2 separate regions of the Homo sapiens genome follow, and region 2 is linked to region 1. Evidence: fine-mapped expression QTL. Tissue or cell type: thyroid. Region 1 holds a variant in brackets; the other region holds the start of a gene. All regions are shown on one strand. Distances are from middle to middle.

Region 1 (8,184 bases):
CCTTTACTTGGGTGTTTGAATACACTGCTCCAATTCTGGGGGTCTTGCTCTTTCCCAGGTCCTCCAGGTCCCCCAGAGGCTGTGACAATAGACGAAATCACAGATACCACTGCTCAGCTCTCCTGGAGACCCGGGCCTGACAACCACAGCCCCATCACCATGTATGTCATTCAAGCCAGGACTCCATTCTCCGTGGGCTGGCAAGCAGTCAGTACAGGTACCATATTGGATGCTTGGCTCAGAGACATTGGGAACTCAGCATACTGGACACAGCACTGTGGCAAGGAACGTCTAAGTTCTCATTCAGACACTACTACAAATGATATATTATGGCAGTGTTTCCTAAACCTCGGCCAACTGTACTATCATTAATATTTTTCTTTATATCAAATCACAGTTGGGTTTTTTTAAACTCATCCTAAGCAATAGTATCTGTGAAATGGTAATGTCCAGGCCAGATTTGGTGGCTCACGCCTGCAATCCCAGCACTGTGGGAGGTAGAGTTGGATGGATCGCGTGAGCCCAGGAGTTCCAGACCAGCCTGGGCAACATGGCAAAACCCCCTCTCTACAAAATATACAAAAATTAGCCTGGCATGGTGGTGCGTGCCTGCAGTCCTAGCAACTCAGGAGGCTGAGGTGGGAGGATTGCTTGAGCCCAGGAGGTAGAGGTTGCAGTGAGCCAAGATCACACCACTGAACTCCAGCCTGGGTGACAGTGAGACTCCGTCTCAAAAAAAAAAAAAAAAAAAGTCTGTTGTGCTGGTTGTATATGTATTTTCCGTAACACACATTAAAAATATATTAGTTATAAAAATAAAATGCATCAATCTGTATTACCTAAAATCATCTGTGTAGCACTGTGGTTCACTTTGGAAAGCAGCGGATTCTGCCTGACTATAGTCACTTAATAGTCACAGACTTCATAAAGTTTACACAGTGCTCTCAAAAACCAATAACAGAGGATTATAGGGAGCCTCTTCACTTGCTGCTGTGTTTTTTGAGACAGGGTCTCACTCTGTCACCCAGGCTGGAGTGCAGTGGTACAATCACAGCACACTGCAGCCTCGACCTCCTGGGCTCAAGCAATCTTCCCACCTCAGCCTGTTGAGTAGCTGAGACCACAGGCGCAGGCCCCCACACCCAGCTAATTCTCTAAAATTTTTTGTAGAGACAGGTCTTGCTATGTTGCTTAGGCTGGTCTCAAACTCCTGCGCTCAAGCAATTCTCCATCAGCCTCCCAAATTGCTGGGATTTCAGGCGTGAGCCACTGTGTCCAGCCCCATTTTTTTAGATGGATAAATTTGGGGATAAAAAGACATGAGATTTCTTTTTAACCAATTTTACAAATTCTTAAAAAAAAAAAAAACATTGTTAGCAGCAACACTTCCATCCTGTTTCCCTTTATTACATGTATACAGCACTTCCTATTTTTTAAAAGTTTCACAGTTATTTCTCTTTGCATGTAAAAGAATTCTTATACCAACCCCACTCTGTCAGTACCTCCAAATTGACTCATTTTCTTATTTAGATTTCATTTAAGGATAAATTGGATGAACAAGTAGTTATTACAAACAAAGATACACACTCCTCTAGACAGCAAAAGTAGGCTATATGGCCTTGATGTTTTGAAGGAGAATATGCCCAGTGTTGAGCAATTCATATAAATCTTGTTGATTTTAACCCATTTGTTTTTTTCACTTTAGTTTACTAATCCTTAGAAATGGGTTTCTGTGTTTCCTTCTGTAATCACTGAGTCACAGGTGTGCTTTAAGAAGGAAATATGAGAAAAATATAGAAGTTAGGAGATGAATTCTAGACCTGACTGCTAATCAGCTGATCTCTATACATCTTCATTTTCCTCTTCTGTTAAATGGGCACAATAAGAATTGTTTAAGAATGAATATAGGCCAGGCGCAGTGGCTCACAACTGTCATCCCAGCACTTTGATAGGCCAAGGCGGGTGGATCGCTTGAGCCCAGGAGTTTGAGAGCAGTCTGGGAAATGAGGCGAAATCCCGTCTCTACTAAAAATACAAAAAAAAAATAGACAGGCATAGTGGCATGCACCTGTAGTCCCTGCTACTCAGGAGGCTGAGGCACAAGAATTGCATGAGTCTGGGAGGTGGAGGTTGCAGTGAGCCGAGATTGTGCCACTGCACTCTACCCTGGGCATCAGAGAGAGAGAGAGAGAGACCCTGTCTCAAAAAAAGAAAAAAAAAAAGAAAAGAAAAAAAGAATATAATACTTTTACCTTTCTCAGAGGATAGTTGAAATAGTGTGTCTGGCACTATACAATAAATGCGGAAACACATGTGAAGGGGTGATAGTAATGATTGAGTCAGGTAGTTTGGGGTCTTGTGGACTGTGTGTCTTTTATGATGTCATCTGCTGGTATCTGATTAGAGTGTGTTAGTTTAACATACAGAGATAGTTCTGAGATTACCTCACTGAAACAACTGTTGATGCAGCTAATATCAGAACACCTACACTGCCCTGAATACAATAATGATGAGGATGGATGGATGTTCCTATCTTCCTAACGTAATCTCTGCATTTGTTTTCTGAGAACCTATGAAACAGCCCCCACCTTTTGTTGTCTTTCAGTCCCAGAACTCATTGATGGGAAGACATTCACAGCGACCGTGGTGGGTTTGAACCCTTGGGTTGAATATGAATTCCGCACAGTTGCAGCCAACGTGATTGGGATTGGGGAGCCCAGCCGCCCCTCAGAGAAACGGAGAACAGAAGAAGCTCGTGAGTAGCACCCGAGATTCAGATCATCTGTTCTGCCAGCTGCTGTTCCTTAGGAAAAGCGTTTGAATTCTTGCTGCTCTTCAGCGCTCATGCGGCTCTGTGTTAGCTCACCCTTCCCTTTAAATGTTTATAATGATAGAAATCAGGCCAGGAGAAGCCCAGCTGAACACGCAACGGGTTTCAATCAAGAGTTGTTTTCTTCATTAGGTCCACTTGTACAGCAAGAGACACACGGTGCTTAGTCCTCTCAAAAGCCAGCCCTTTCTTCATTGGTTCATTTGTCACCAAGATTCTAACAGAATTTCAAAAAAAAATCCCACATTTCAAATAAAATTATCTCACATAAGTAACTAATGGCAAAGAATAATTTGTGACTGCTCTGGACACAGCCACCATGGGGTAATCCTGTTTAGAATAGAAATAAAAAATAATTTCTTCAGAAATGTTCACTTAGATTATCTTTCTTAGGGTATAAACCATTCCCAGAAACGAAGATTCAGAACATCGTGCTCATTCGAACAAGACCAGTCAGCAATTCAGTATGGCCCTCTGCATATGCAGCTTGAATGAGCACGGGGAGAGAAGAACAAGTTCATCAGGGTCAGCCGTACTTTTACTTAGCTGGTGTAAAGCAAGAGGCCTACATGTGCCGTCTTTTATAGAGTTCCCGCCTGTAGAGAGGCCAGTGTGTTGAAGGAATAATAAGGTCCCTACACAAATAGGAGTTCTGACCCTACTCTCAGAAAAGCAAAAACTCATCTAGATCTATTTGATTGGCTTTAACCAAGGAGACATACCCAGTCACCAGCCACATACCCCAGTGAGACCTTTTTAAATGTGGCCCGGAGCCTTTCAGTTACGTGATGACAATATAGCTAGTCCCCTGCTTTCTTTTCCCCTTCCAAAACCATAATTGAATTAATTCCCCTCAGCAATCCTGAGGTGGAAGCTCGCATAATTTCCTCTCTTTTATAGAGAAAACTGGTGATCAAAGAGGTTAAGCTCAGTGAGCCGGGGGTCAACTTCTGTCTGCCACTTCCTTCAACACTCAGATCAAAACTCTTCCTCCCAGAAGCCATTCGCCCACCCCAGCTCTGAGCAGGGCGCTACTCCGGAACGCCCCCCGCTTCTCCATGCTGACTGTTCCTTACCCTGGTTGTCGACCTTGCTCTAACTGGTGCAGGCGCTCCTCCACTCCAACCAGCTTGTAAGCTCTGCCTGGGCAGAGCTTGTACTCTTCCCTTTGTGTATCTCCACGTGGCTCATAAACGCATAACCAAACATTAGGACCAGACTTCAGTCCTTTCCTCCCTTCGGGAACCCCTCGGCCTCTAGGGATGGAGCTGAACAATTGGTCAGACGTGTCAGATAACACGTGTGCCTTGTTGAATGGGAAACAGGTAATTAATAGCAGTCTCCTTGGTACATTTCACTTCCTCGAGCGGTCGCCGTGGGCCCCTTGACAATGCTGTTGCTGATCTCCAGAGACAAAGGGGCGTGCCTCAGAGTACTCACTGAAAGTGAGTCACCTCTGCCAGGCAACCTTCCTGGCCCTCATTCGCCTTTGCCGCCTGACATAACTTGTTTTTTGTCTCCTT[G/C]TGCAGTCCCCGAAGTCACACCAGCGAATGTCAGTGGTGGCGGAGGCAGCAAATCTGAACTGGTTATAACCTGGGAGGTAAATGAATCACAGAATAAAAGGAACGTACACGCATCGAAGCTATTTTATTATTTTCCTCCATGTTAGACATAGCTGGGAAGTTTCCTCCTCTGTTTTTAACAGTGAAAATTCATTTGGGTTCAGACACTCCCTCTCACGTAGCTAATGGCTAGCAGGAAGGACGGCACTTGCCCATCCATTGTTGAGGCAAGTTTTAATTCAATCCATCACAGTAAAAACAATTATGAAGGGAAGACAACACACGTTACAAAAAAAAATAAAGAAGGCTGTTTCAGAGAAAACTAGTTTTTCTTTTCTTCCTGAATTGCTGCATGGCCAATTGATTTAAAACGTCTGCCAGCAATAGATTCAGTGCACCAGCACAATTTCCTGGCAATTGGCTTTGCTTCTAGAAGGGGCCCTCTTTTAGGAGGTATTTTTTAAAACAACCTGGAGGAAAGTTAGTCACCAATTTATTAAAAATTGGCTTTGAGAGAAGAGGTGGGAGCTTTAGAAAGGGTTCTTCATGTTTTTGAAAGATTCTAAACAGCCCCAGAAATTAAAATCTCTCATTTACCCAAAGCACAGCAGTGAAAGAAATCACTCATCCCTCCAGCTGAACTCTTCCCTCTGAGAGGGAGGATCTTCAGCCAAGATGGTTTTTCTTCCTTCAGTGAGATCTTTTGTCTATTTGGCAATGGAAGAAGATTAGTATTAGAGGATACGTGTTGGAAATGTGGTTTTTCAGGAGACCGATGTCCAGTGTTTTTTTTTTTACAATCATTTCCAACCATTTCAGAGCTGGGTCTGCCCCATCAAAGAGCAAGCTCTGGACTGCAGATCCTCATTACGTTTTCAACCCTGTCCAGTACATCATAACTGTTTAAGATAGACTGACTGCAAGCCCTAAATTTAAAAGACTGTTAACAAAACGCCAAATAAGATGGGTGGAGAAGGATGTAGACAAGAATGTTACAAGGGAAACAAAAACGATTTTTGCATTTGAGTGAAACTACTGTGATTTCTGAAGACCACCTTCCTTCTTTCCCAGACGGTCCCTGAGGAATTACAGAATGGTCGAGGCTTTGGTTATGTGGTGGCCTTCCGGCCCTACGGTAAAATGATCTGGATGCTGACAGTGCTGGCCTCAGCTGATGCCTCTAGATACGTGTTCAGGAATGAGAGCGTGCACCCCTTCTCTCCCTTTGAGGTTAAAGTAGGTGTCTTCAACAACAAAGGAGAAGGCCCTTTCAGTCCCACCACGGTGGTGTATTCTGCAGAAGAAGGTATCGTTTATGCTGCCTAGATCATTGACTGTTAATATTTCTTCAATTCTAAAATGTGGATTGTAGCACGTACAATCAATTTCGCATGGTACATGTATCTTGAAGGCATACCTGATTTGAGAAGAGGATAATGTAAACAATTTGGTTCGCTGTCCACCATGAATCTCTTGAAAAGATAGCGACTGCTCTGTATATGAAAACACTTGGCTGTCCATTATTGATTCCATTGCTAAGGACCAGAATTGCAAATACCATATAAGATCTTCATATCTATCTATATGTTATCATTACTTTCAAAAGAATTTTATTTTTGCCTTTAAGTGAATATCAAAATATAATTTGCATTTTCTTACCACTTGTATTTTCATAAAGCATATGGTACTTGTGGCTCACACCTGTAATCCCAACACTTTTGGGAGGCCAAGGCGGGTGGATCACCTGAGGTTGGGAGTTCGGGACCAGCCTGACCAATATGGAGAAAACCCATCTCTACTAAAAATATAAAATTAGCCAGTTGTAGTGGCACATCCCTGTAATCCCAGCTACTCAGGAGGCTGAGACAGGAGAATCACTTGAACCCAGGAGGCGGAGGTTGCGGTGAGCCGAGATCGCACCACTGCACTCCAGCCTGGGCAACAAGAGCAAAACTCCATCTCAAAAAAAAAAAAAAATCTCACTTATTAAAGAAAAGAGTAAGTCATGAAGCAGTGTGATTGCGCTCACTGTCATCCACACCATCATTATGTTTAACATTTCTCACACATTATTATCACCTCCATGCTATCCCTGCTCTCGGGATGCCTCTCACACAGTCTTCGTTACCTTTGGAGTTCGTCTATGTTGTTTTAAAGATGATGCTCAGAATGGGACCATGTTAAAACATCTGAAAGGTGAATCATTGATTTAGAGTCAGTGAAGATGCAATAACTTATTCCCAATCAGAGAGATCATCCCCTTAGACTCAGTAGCCCTCCATGATCTAGCTGCTGCCTCTCTGTCTGCCTCAGCTGCTGATGCCTTTCCCTGCATATTTCATGTTCCAACCATTGCCAAAGGATTTACAATTATTCAAACAAGCTTCAGCCCTTTTCATAGCCTTCAACTTCTCTTAGATAATAGTTCATGTCTCTGGATTATGAAAATGAGAGGAAAAGGGGAAAAGGACAGTCAGCTGACTTGACTAAGATTCAAGAGAGCTGGATGACACTTCAGGTTCACACTGCAATCTGTATGATCTTGGATAACTCAGGTATACTCTGTGGGCCTCAGCATCTTTGGCTGCAAAGGAGAGGCTAGACTGACTGTTTCCCAAATTTCAGTTATTTTTGCCAGATTTCTGCCATAGCTGTGTACCATTTGTATATGTTCACATTTTTCTTTCAATAGTCTTCCTTAAAAAAAATTTAGTGGGCAAGCACAGTGGCTCATGCCTGTAATCCCAGCACTTTGGGAGGGGGATGTGGGAGGATAGCATGAGCCTAGGAGTTTGAGACCAACCTGGGCAACATAGCAAGATCCAAGTCTTTACAAAAAAACATTAGCCAGGCGTGTTGGCACATGTGTGTGTGGTCCCAGCTACTTGGGAGGCTGAGGCGGGAGGATGGCTTGAGCTCAGGAGGTCAGGCTGCAGTGAGCCATGATTGTGCCACTACATTCCAGCCTAGGTGACAGAGTGAGACCCTATTTCAAAAAAGAAAAAGAGAAGCAGTTTAGCCATGTCGTAAGCAATAACATTTGTGAGATGCTAATTAAGAAGGATCTGTGTTAAGGGAATTGCTGGCTATGAAAACTTGGTGCTTAAACTTAAGTGGTTCTTCTCTTCTACCCACACCTAAATTCAGAACCCAAACACTGGACAAATATTCACTACCACCAACTCCAGCTATTAATCACTGCCCCTCTGCAAAATGAGGGTTTGGCTTACAATCATTAAGGACGATTCTATAACCATGAATTATTTTACCTTATAATGCTAGTATCTACAATCCTGTCCTAATATAGCTGATAGAGTAATAACTATCTCCATATTCATCTACAGAACCCACCAAACCACCAGCCAGTATCTTTGCCAGAAGTCTTTCTGCCACAGATATTGAAGTTTTCTGGGCCTCCCCACTGGAGAAGAATAGAGGACGAATACAAGGTTATGAGGTAGGCAAGACATATGTGCCTTGGGTCTGAAAGAGAGTCTATGCCCCTTGATAAGTCCTCCAAGTCACATTCTTATAGGAAGAGACCCACATTCCCACTAAGAGGCATTGGTTTTAGGCCTGGCTTCCAGCTGAACATTAATGGAAGCATTGAATACTCAGCTGTGAGACTACCCTTTTTCTATGTTATATTCTAGAGGTATTTTTCGAATTATATGCAAATCTAAGCATTTACGGGATGGTTGGCAAAATGAGCTTTGACTTCTGATATGCCCAGGATCACTTTGACTCAAAACAAACATGGGAAAAAAGAAAATAATGAACGACGGTTGTGTC
Region 2 (8,184 bases), 22 kb after region 1:
CAAATCTAGCTTTGTCTGAAGTTTCTTTGGAAACTCTGCAATGCACTGAAGACATCTGTAATATGATGTTACCAAAGCAGTTTACATATGTCCTTATATGCATATTTTTTATTATATATTTAGTGTTTTATAGAATTTTTTAAAGTTAACATATAATGTAGATATTAATTTTTTCCTCGGCTGTAAAATGCTATGGGCAACACAATCATGCAATTATAATTTGAAAATATTTCCTTTAAAGACAGAGTTTGAAACTCATCTTGGTAAATAAATTGCAAATTACTCGTACAGTTTTACAAGGATCTCATGGCAGAACAGCGGAAGACTTGGTCCGTAACTCAAGGCTGTTGTATGCAAACTACTCTTCTAGTGGTTAATGCACTTGACATGTACAGTATGTTTCCCATGCCGTTGTGATTTTGACATGTACAGTATGTTTTCATGCCGTTGTGAATTTTGTTGTTCAACCCAACTTGAGATGGTTTCAGGAATGGCTGCAATCTCAAAAGCTCAATGTACTGCCCAAGAGGCACCTTGTGCAATATTCCCATCCCTGAATTTAGCATTGTACAGGAAGATTTTCTTTTCACTCAACTGAGTTAGCATTGTCTTTGTGGTAGCATTATCTTAGACATTAAATTTGAAGTAACATATATCCTGTAGTAACATAGACCCAAAGTTACTATAGTCAACCAAGTCTTTCAAAGGATAAAAGATCATTTTATTATCTTTAACTGTATCTATTTTGAATGTAAATTTAAAAAAAGTAATTCTCTGTCAATGGATTCGTAATTTCTTTACAAAATTTCTTATATATAATATGTGTATCTCTGTAATAATAGAGCCCTTCTTTTGAATCAAAATTACATATGGACTTTGGAAGATTGCTCCTATTTCAACAAATAGTTGCTGCAAGAATTTTTAATATGACTCTATAAAAGCTCTTTAGTACAATTGTATGGTTTCTTGATGATTCTGTTTTGCAATAGGTAGCCTAGTTGCTTTATATGCTTTACCTTCTAGGTCTTAAAATCACACATTGGAAAATGACAATATCAACAAAACTGTATTCTTATGAAAAGAACTATTTGTTACAATGAGAAAGGTTTTGTGAGTAAACCCTACTGGACAGTGACATAAAAGGCAATGGAATTTTCTATAAACATTTTCTCATGTAAACATGCTGCCACCTTTTCTTCTTTCTCAGAGAACTCAAATTTGCTATAGTTTGTCATTTTTGCTTACAAATAATATAACTTTTCAACCTTCTAGTTATATTTATCCAATAAAGTCATAATCGGGATTCCATTTGTGTAAAAACTAGGGTGGTAACCGGAAAAAAATATTGTCAGTATTTCAAGCTGTGTTCCTTTCTTAGTTTGATATGGTTACTTCTATGTTGAAATAAAATTTAAAATCACATGCAAAAAAAAAATCAGCAAAATAATAAAATGAACGAAAAAAAATGACACCCAGGGAGTTCCCAACCCCAGTGTAAATGATATTTACCAGTGATCTAGCATATGTAATCTTTTTTAAAGGTATTGTTAATAAATATTCTGTCATTTGTAAAGATACTTGTCTTTCGGGAGCATTTTTCCTGCCTGCCTGTCAGGGAATTTGTTAGCTTACCTTTGTGCTAGTTATAATTTGGGATCATAGAGGGACTCAAAAGTCTCTACCCAAATCTAGATGACCCAGAGCTTTTCCTTTGGAATTGACAACCCTGAAGCACCATTTCAAATCCTCTTTGGAAGTAGAGAGGGTCCTAATCCACAAGTAAATGTCCTGAAGATGAGACTTGAATATTTTCTCTTGATTAGCTAAGTCTTTTGTATATTTACTGTAAGTATATCTGTTGTTTCCCTCACCCCCCATTGCTAAAAGGGTAAGTTCTAAGCTTGAGCATTTAAGGCTCTTTTTTTTTTGAGACGGAGTCTCACTCTTGTCACCCAGGCTGGAGTGCAATGTTGCGATCTCGGCTCACTGCAACCTCCGCCTCCCAGGTTCAAGCAATTCTCCTGCCTCAGCCTCCCGAGGCGCCCACCACTACACCGGACTAATTTTTGGATTTTTAGTAGAGACGAGATTTCACCATGTTAGTCAGGCTGGTCTCAAACACCTGACCTCAGGTGATCTGCCCGCCTCGGCCTCCCACAGTGCTGGGATTACAGGCTTGAGCCACCGCACCCGGCCCTTAAGGCCCTTTTTAATCCAAAACGATTTAACTGTGTATCCAGCCACAGTAAGCCCTCCCTGACCCCTGAACACTGCTTGCTTTTGGTCTCACCTCTGTGCCTTTGGTCTTATGGCTGCCCCTTCCTGAAATGCCTTCTCCACCCTTCTCTCCCATTCAGATCCCTGCTGTCCTAGGGTAGCTCCAGCCCCAGTTTGTCTGCAAAGACTTCCCATGCTTCAGTCCTTTATGACATTCTCGCTTGGAAGTAGTTGCATCCCCTATCAATGCTGCTCATTTAGTAATTAATCAGATACTACTTTTGGAAATCTCTTGTACTGTTATCTTGCATTTTAATTTAACTCCTGTATTGTTACTTACTTTTTCTTGTATGTATGGCTTGTCTTCCCAACTAGATTGTAAGCTCCTTGAGGGCAGGGACTTTGGTCTTATCTTCCATGTACTCTCCATAGTGCCTAGCACAGTGCCTTGCAATAAATACTCACTGATTAATTGAATGAAGGGGTCTTTGAAGTAGCATTTTGCATCAGTTGCCTGCCTGTGTGCCACAGCAAACCAACCAGGGAAGACTGTGTCATTACTTTCGTTATGTGCTGAAAAGCGTTAAAAGGCCTGGCTTCTAACTTTGTACCTGGAAGAAGTCTTTGACCAATTGGCTTCATCATCGGGTAAATGAGGTCCTGGATTAGTTGAGTCTAACTGAATTGAAGATGTTTTAGAAAGTGCCCCATGAGCACCTCCACCCAAACTTGTCTCATTTGTTGGCTTTCATGGTTGCCTCAGGTAGGGTCCACTGGCTGTAAGCAAAGAAACGACCCTGGGTAACTTGAGCAAACAAAAAGTAAGGAATTAGAATGACACAGGTTACATCATATGAGCCAAGGAAACACTGAAGGACCAACTCTTGAGGAGAATAAGAACCAGGCCACTCTGTGGGTCCAGACAATGGGAACTTTGGAAAGTCTTTTTGGGGTGCTATTGTGGGGATGAATCAGCTTTGTTTCCAATTTTGACGCCATTATGCTCAATATTCAGATTCCTGGGAAAGTGATCAGTTCCATTTGAGTTCCACAGCCAGAGTACCTTGTACTCACAGGGGAGGGATAGTTAAAGGAAAACTAAGATGCTGTTTTCCAAAGGTAAGAGAAGAAATGCTGGGTTGGTATAAGTAACAGATTTTCTAGGCTTAGCCAGCCAAGGGGACTTTCTTAGGCCCTTAGCCCAAGTAATACACTCGAGTGGAATGACTATATTGCTGCTTGAGATTTTTTTCTGAAGGAGGACCACTAGGAAAATTTGCTTTGCTTGTTTAACCTTTCAAAGTGCTTACTCTTGCCCTCCTTTTTGTGTGTGTAGTCCACTTGTGATTTAACTGTATGAAAGGAAATTCTATTGTGCCAGATATTTGGATTCTCTCAGTGTACCTACTTTCTATGGAGCCCACACATGCTACATACAAAGCAGCACCTTTCCATGGGCACAGAAGACATGGATGATAAGCTTCATTTCTCAGGTAAGCTCTGAATTCTTCCAGCCTGTGAGGTAGAAGGTGCATAGACTTTGATATTAAGAAAGAATGATTGTGTTATTCCCACCATCAAAATTGTGGTTGTTTATATCCAGGAGGCAATGTTAAATCCTGATTAACCTTTACCCAGTCTCTTCCACCACCTTGCCTCACTACAAATATGCGCAAAGAATGTTGAGTTATAAAAAGTATACAAATAGCACATAATTAGCAACAAAAATGTCATGCAGTTTTTAATCTAATGTAATCAACCAACAGGTGATTTTTGTTCACTACATTGGATTATCGATGCTACTGTTCTCCTCCGTTAACACTTATAATCAAGAAGTGACTGTTATTTTCCTGTTGTTACAATTTACAAAATGTTCTGGCTAAAAACGTTATGTGGCCAACCATAGTGCTTTGAAAGGCAAGCCTTTAAAATCAAGGACTTATATTCAATCTGTGGACATACCCCAGATTTTTCCATTACAAAATGCCAGACACTGAGGCCTTACAAAGGCAGCCTAATACAAAGACTAAGGACGTGGATCCTGGAGTTTGACTGCCTGGGGTGCATTGTAATGATTGGCTACTTATTAGGGAGGATAAAGTTTGTAAAGCTCTCCAAACAGTGATGATTTTACCGTCTGTTATTGTTCTTTTTCTCCAGGGACTTTACTAGACCCACAGATGTAGGATGTGGATGCTTCTTATCACCAAAATGAGTGGAACTCAGCTGACACATCCATTATCACCTTTTATTTAAACATGATCACTTCTTAATATAAATTTTAATGTTCGATAATTTTAATCATACAATCAACTAATTCAAACTTAGGCAGTAGGGTTCCCATTCAGATGCCAGGTTTTGCACAAAGCCTCCCTCAGCTTCCCCATCTGAAATTGACCTTGCATTTCTCTGACCTCCAGGGGATGGGGTCTGTACCCACTCATGTCAGTCATCCCTTCGTACCTTATATTTAAATCATTTTTGTTGGTGTCTTCCGCCTTATAGTAGACACACGGCACCTCAGCGTTGGCATCTGGGTGTGGTTCCTCATTGTGCTCCCAGGCACAAGGCCTGTGTCACCTCCATCTCAGACCTAGAGGGAGGAGAATATCTGGCCCCGTTTCCTGTGATTTCCTCAGGCCCCCTGCCAGAGTGTGATTAGTAAATGCAAGTCAGGCTGCCCATTCTGCAAAGAGGCCCCGTTTCCCCTTGTGCTAAATGGGCCATGCGGATTAAATGTTCCAGCTCTGCAACTCACCTGCAAACTACAATACTCAACAGAGATCACAGTTTAAACAAAATTGGCCTCTATCCTTTATCACAAGCAGTTATGGGCCATGGTAGATTAGCAGAGCTCTAGTGATATAGATCACATAGAGAGAAAGCTTTTTTTAAAAAAGGTCAACCATATGATCGATCTGAAAGTCTGGAAATTGGAAGGCTGAGCTACTTAAATATAGATGCAATTACATGTGATATCCCCATTCTCTGTAAACTGGGTTTTTGCCACATATCCTTATTGTTAGGAATAACACGAACTATACCAGGAAATATATATGTCCTAGGACTTTAACAAATAGTAATATCTTTAATTTGTTTTTCTAGTTTTCAAAGTGCTTTTCACACTAATAAGGGGAGGACATAGGTTTTTATTCCTTTTTTATTTATGAAATGGAAGCAAAGAGGTTATATAAGAAGCCCAAAGTAACATAGACAATTAGAAAGTCAGGGCTGGGCATGGTGGCTCACACCTGTAATCCCAGCACTTTGGGAGACTGAGGTGGGGGGATCACAAGGTCAAGAGTTCGAGACCAGCCTGGCCAACATGGTGAAACCCCATTCCTACTAAAAATACAAAAATTAGCTGGGCATGGTGGCACGTGCTTGTAGTCCCAGTTACCCAGGAGGCTGAGGCAGGAGGATTGCTTGAACCTGGGAGGCAGAGGTTGTAGTGAGCTGAGATTGCCCTACTGCACTCTAGCCTGGGCAAGAGAGTGAGACTCTGTCTCAAACAAAAGAAAAAAAAAAAAAGAAGGACTAGAATTTAGAACATAGACTCATTAGTGCATTTCATACACCTAGAAATAAGTACTTAGAGAAAGGACAGGATGGAGTAAGGAACTAGACTCTGAAGTTCAACTAGAGAACATTCTAGGACAAGTAGGTAGGCCAGAGGAAATGGTGAGGTAGAAGGGTGAGATGTCTGAGGTTCAGATGCTGGAGGTGGAGAAGTTCTGAGTGCCGGCCAGGCCCAGGGCACAGCCATCTGGAGGAATGGGATAGGATAGGTGCCTGGAGAGGGTTTTAGTTATTCAGCAAGGGACTACTGGCAGCCCTCTCTGTACCAGGCACTATTCTGGGCATAGAAGAATGATGTGGCATTCAGATGTGTGTGAGGAAGCCAAGGCACCAGTAACAGTATTTTGTCACAATACAGAGAAATGCAATGATAATAATAATAGTAAACAGTGATTATGCTTATAATATGTGCCAGACTCAGTGCAAATCAACCTACCGATTTAGTTACCATTTATTATTCCTATTTTATACACAGAGGATTGAGGTTGACAGGTTCACATTTGTCCCTGATCACACAGTTGATCAGAGAGACCAGGAATTGAAATGCTGGTGGCTTGGGTTTAGGGCCCTACTCCAAAACATTAGATGTCTCTATCTGTAAATAGATGATACATAAACAATAAGGTAGGTAGATAGATAAATAGACAGATAGATACGGTTCCCATATAGCAACAAGAAGGAAAGGCAGTCATGAGCTTCAGTCTGCTCTAAAGTGGCTCAGCTTCTCTGCTTCTCTTTCCTTGACTGCAAATGTTGTTTTTTGCGTGTTCGTTGTCCTTGACTTCAGGTGTCTTAGAGCTGTTTCTTTAAACTCCGGCTACCCTTCAAGATCAGGATTACCCAATAAAATAGGAGAGGAGCTATTAAACTTAGATTTCAGATAAAAAAAAAATTATGCTTCCTTAGTATAAGTATGCCCCATGTGATATTTATTTGAAATTCAACTTTAACTGAGCCTCTTATTTTTATTTGCTAAATCTGGCAACCTGACACCAGGAGGTCTTCATTACTCTCATTGAAGTAATTAATTTGTAATTCAAAATTTCAGGGTCTTGCGAATGTGTTGTCAGATCTCTGAAGGTCAATGGCTCTGAGGGCGAGACATGAAGTTTGCTGTTTTGAGTTCTGTTTCGTTTGCTGAACTCTCCTTCCCACTTTTCCTTGGATGGTGTGAGGATGGGATGTGTGTGTGTCCAGAGAGACAGGGCTGGTGGGTGAAGTTCCTCTTAGAGCTGGCAGAAAAGAGGTTTTGTTTTTTTTTTGTTTGTTTTTTGAGACGGAATTTTGCTCTTGTTGCCCAGGATAGAGTGCAATGGCGCAATCTCGGCTCACTGCAACCTCCGCCTCCCGGGTTCAAGTGATTCTCCTGCCTCAGCGTCCTGAGTAGCTGGGATTACAAGCATGCGCCGCCACGCCTGGCTAATTTTGTATTTTTAGTAGAGACGGGTTTCTCCATGTTGGTCAGGCTGGTCTCGAACCCCTGATCTCAGGTGATCCACCCACCTTGGCTTCTCAAAGTGCTGAGATGACAGGCGTGAGGCACCGCACCCAGCCCAGAAAAGAGTTTTAAGACAAGGGAATCTTTCCCCAGCAAAGGCCCACATTATGTGGCAAGAAGGTGTTAAAGCAGGTGGAAGGGATTCCAGAAATATTCTGAAAGCTTAAAAAAATGGGTTTGTTGCCAGGAACATAGGCCACAGCACAGCTCGTTGGAAAACTATGTAGTGGACGCATCGTTTATCAACTGCAGTGTTGGGACCAAATATCCGAGACCAAATAACTGGCAGTTAGAATTGGCCCAGTTGTTCCTCTTGAATTTAGTGGTTAACAAATAAGATATTGAGTGCATACTATGTGTCAAGCACTTGCTGGGCACTGGAGAAACTGAGATAAATAGGGTTAAGGCTTCCCTCATGGTTCACTGAAGGAGACAGAAATACACTTATTGAAGGATGGTGTGAATAGTGTGACAGATAAAGGTATGAACACAATGCTGGACCTGTGTTTCTTGCAAAACCTACTTATAATGAGGTTAAGTTCAGTCAAACACAATTTTTTTTACCATTGATCCCCCAGGATAGAATATTTTCATTTGATTAAACATGATTATTTTCCCAAATTGGTTGCTTTTCTTAAAAAAAAGAAAAACACATTCATAAATATTTTGAATCCATTAAGCCATGTGTCAATATTGGCCCTCTGGGAAAATCTAGCTCATTGCCCGCTTTTTTTGTAAATCAAGATTTATTGCAACATAGCCATGCTGATTTATAGATTGCCTACGGCCACTCTGTGCTATCACGGAAGAACTGAGTGGCTGCCACAAAGACCATATGGTCCTCAAAGCTGAAAATATTTACTATCTAGCCCTTTAAGAAGAGTTTGCTG

Evidence for each region. PIP is the estimated chance that this variant, and not a neighbour inherited with it, causes the effect.
Region 2: it holds the start of CNTN4-AS1, and the variant in region 1 is fine-mapped to the expression of CNTN4-AS1 in thyroid (GTEx, PIP above 0.99).

What each region holds. Positions count from the first base shown.
Region 1 is chr3:3,034,574-3,042,757 of GRCh38, forward strand. CNTN4 (contactin 4) reads left to right here. Exons shown (of 25, transcript NM_175607.3): 17 at 59-217; 18 at 2,606-2,755; 19 at 4,360-4,430; 20 at 5,464-5,698; 21 at 7,737-7,849. It overlaps CNTN4-AS1 (CNTN4 antisense RNA 1), which reads right to left. Exons shown (of 4, transcript NR_046554.1): 3 at 6,472-6,581; 4 at 5,088-5,809. Among named protein-coding and RNA genes, the nearest start is that of CNTN4-AS1, 22 kb to the right of the region's middle. RefSeq lists enhancers at 3,540-4,739, 3,974-4,083. The variant G/C (reference allele first, on the strand shown) is at 4,354.
Region 2 is chr3:3,056,387-3,064,570 of GRCh38, forward strand. CNTN4-AS1 (CNTN4 antisense RNA 1) reads right to left here and starts at 4,759. Exons shown (of 4, transcript NR_046554.1): 1 at 4,681-4,759. CNTN4 (contactin 4) reads left to right here. Exons shown (of 25, transcript NM_175607.3): 25 at 1-1,573.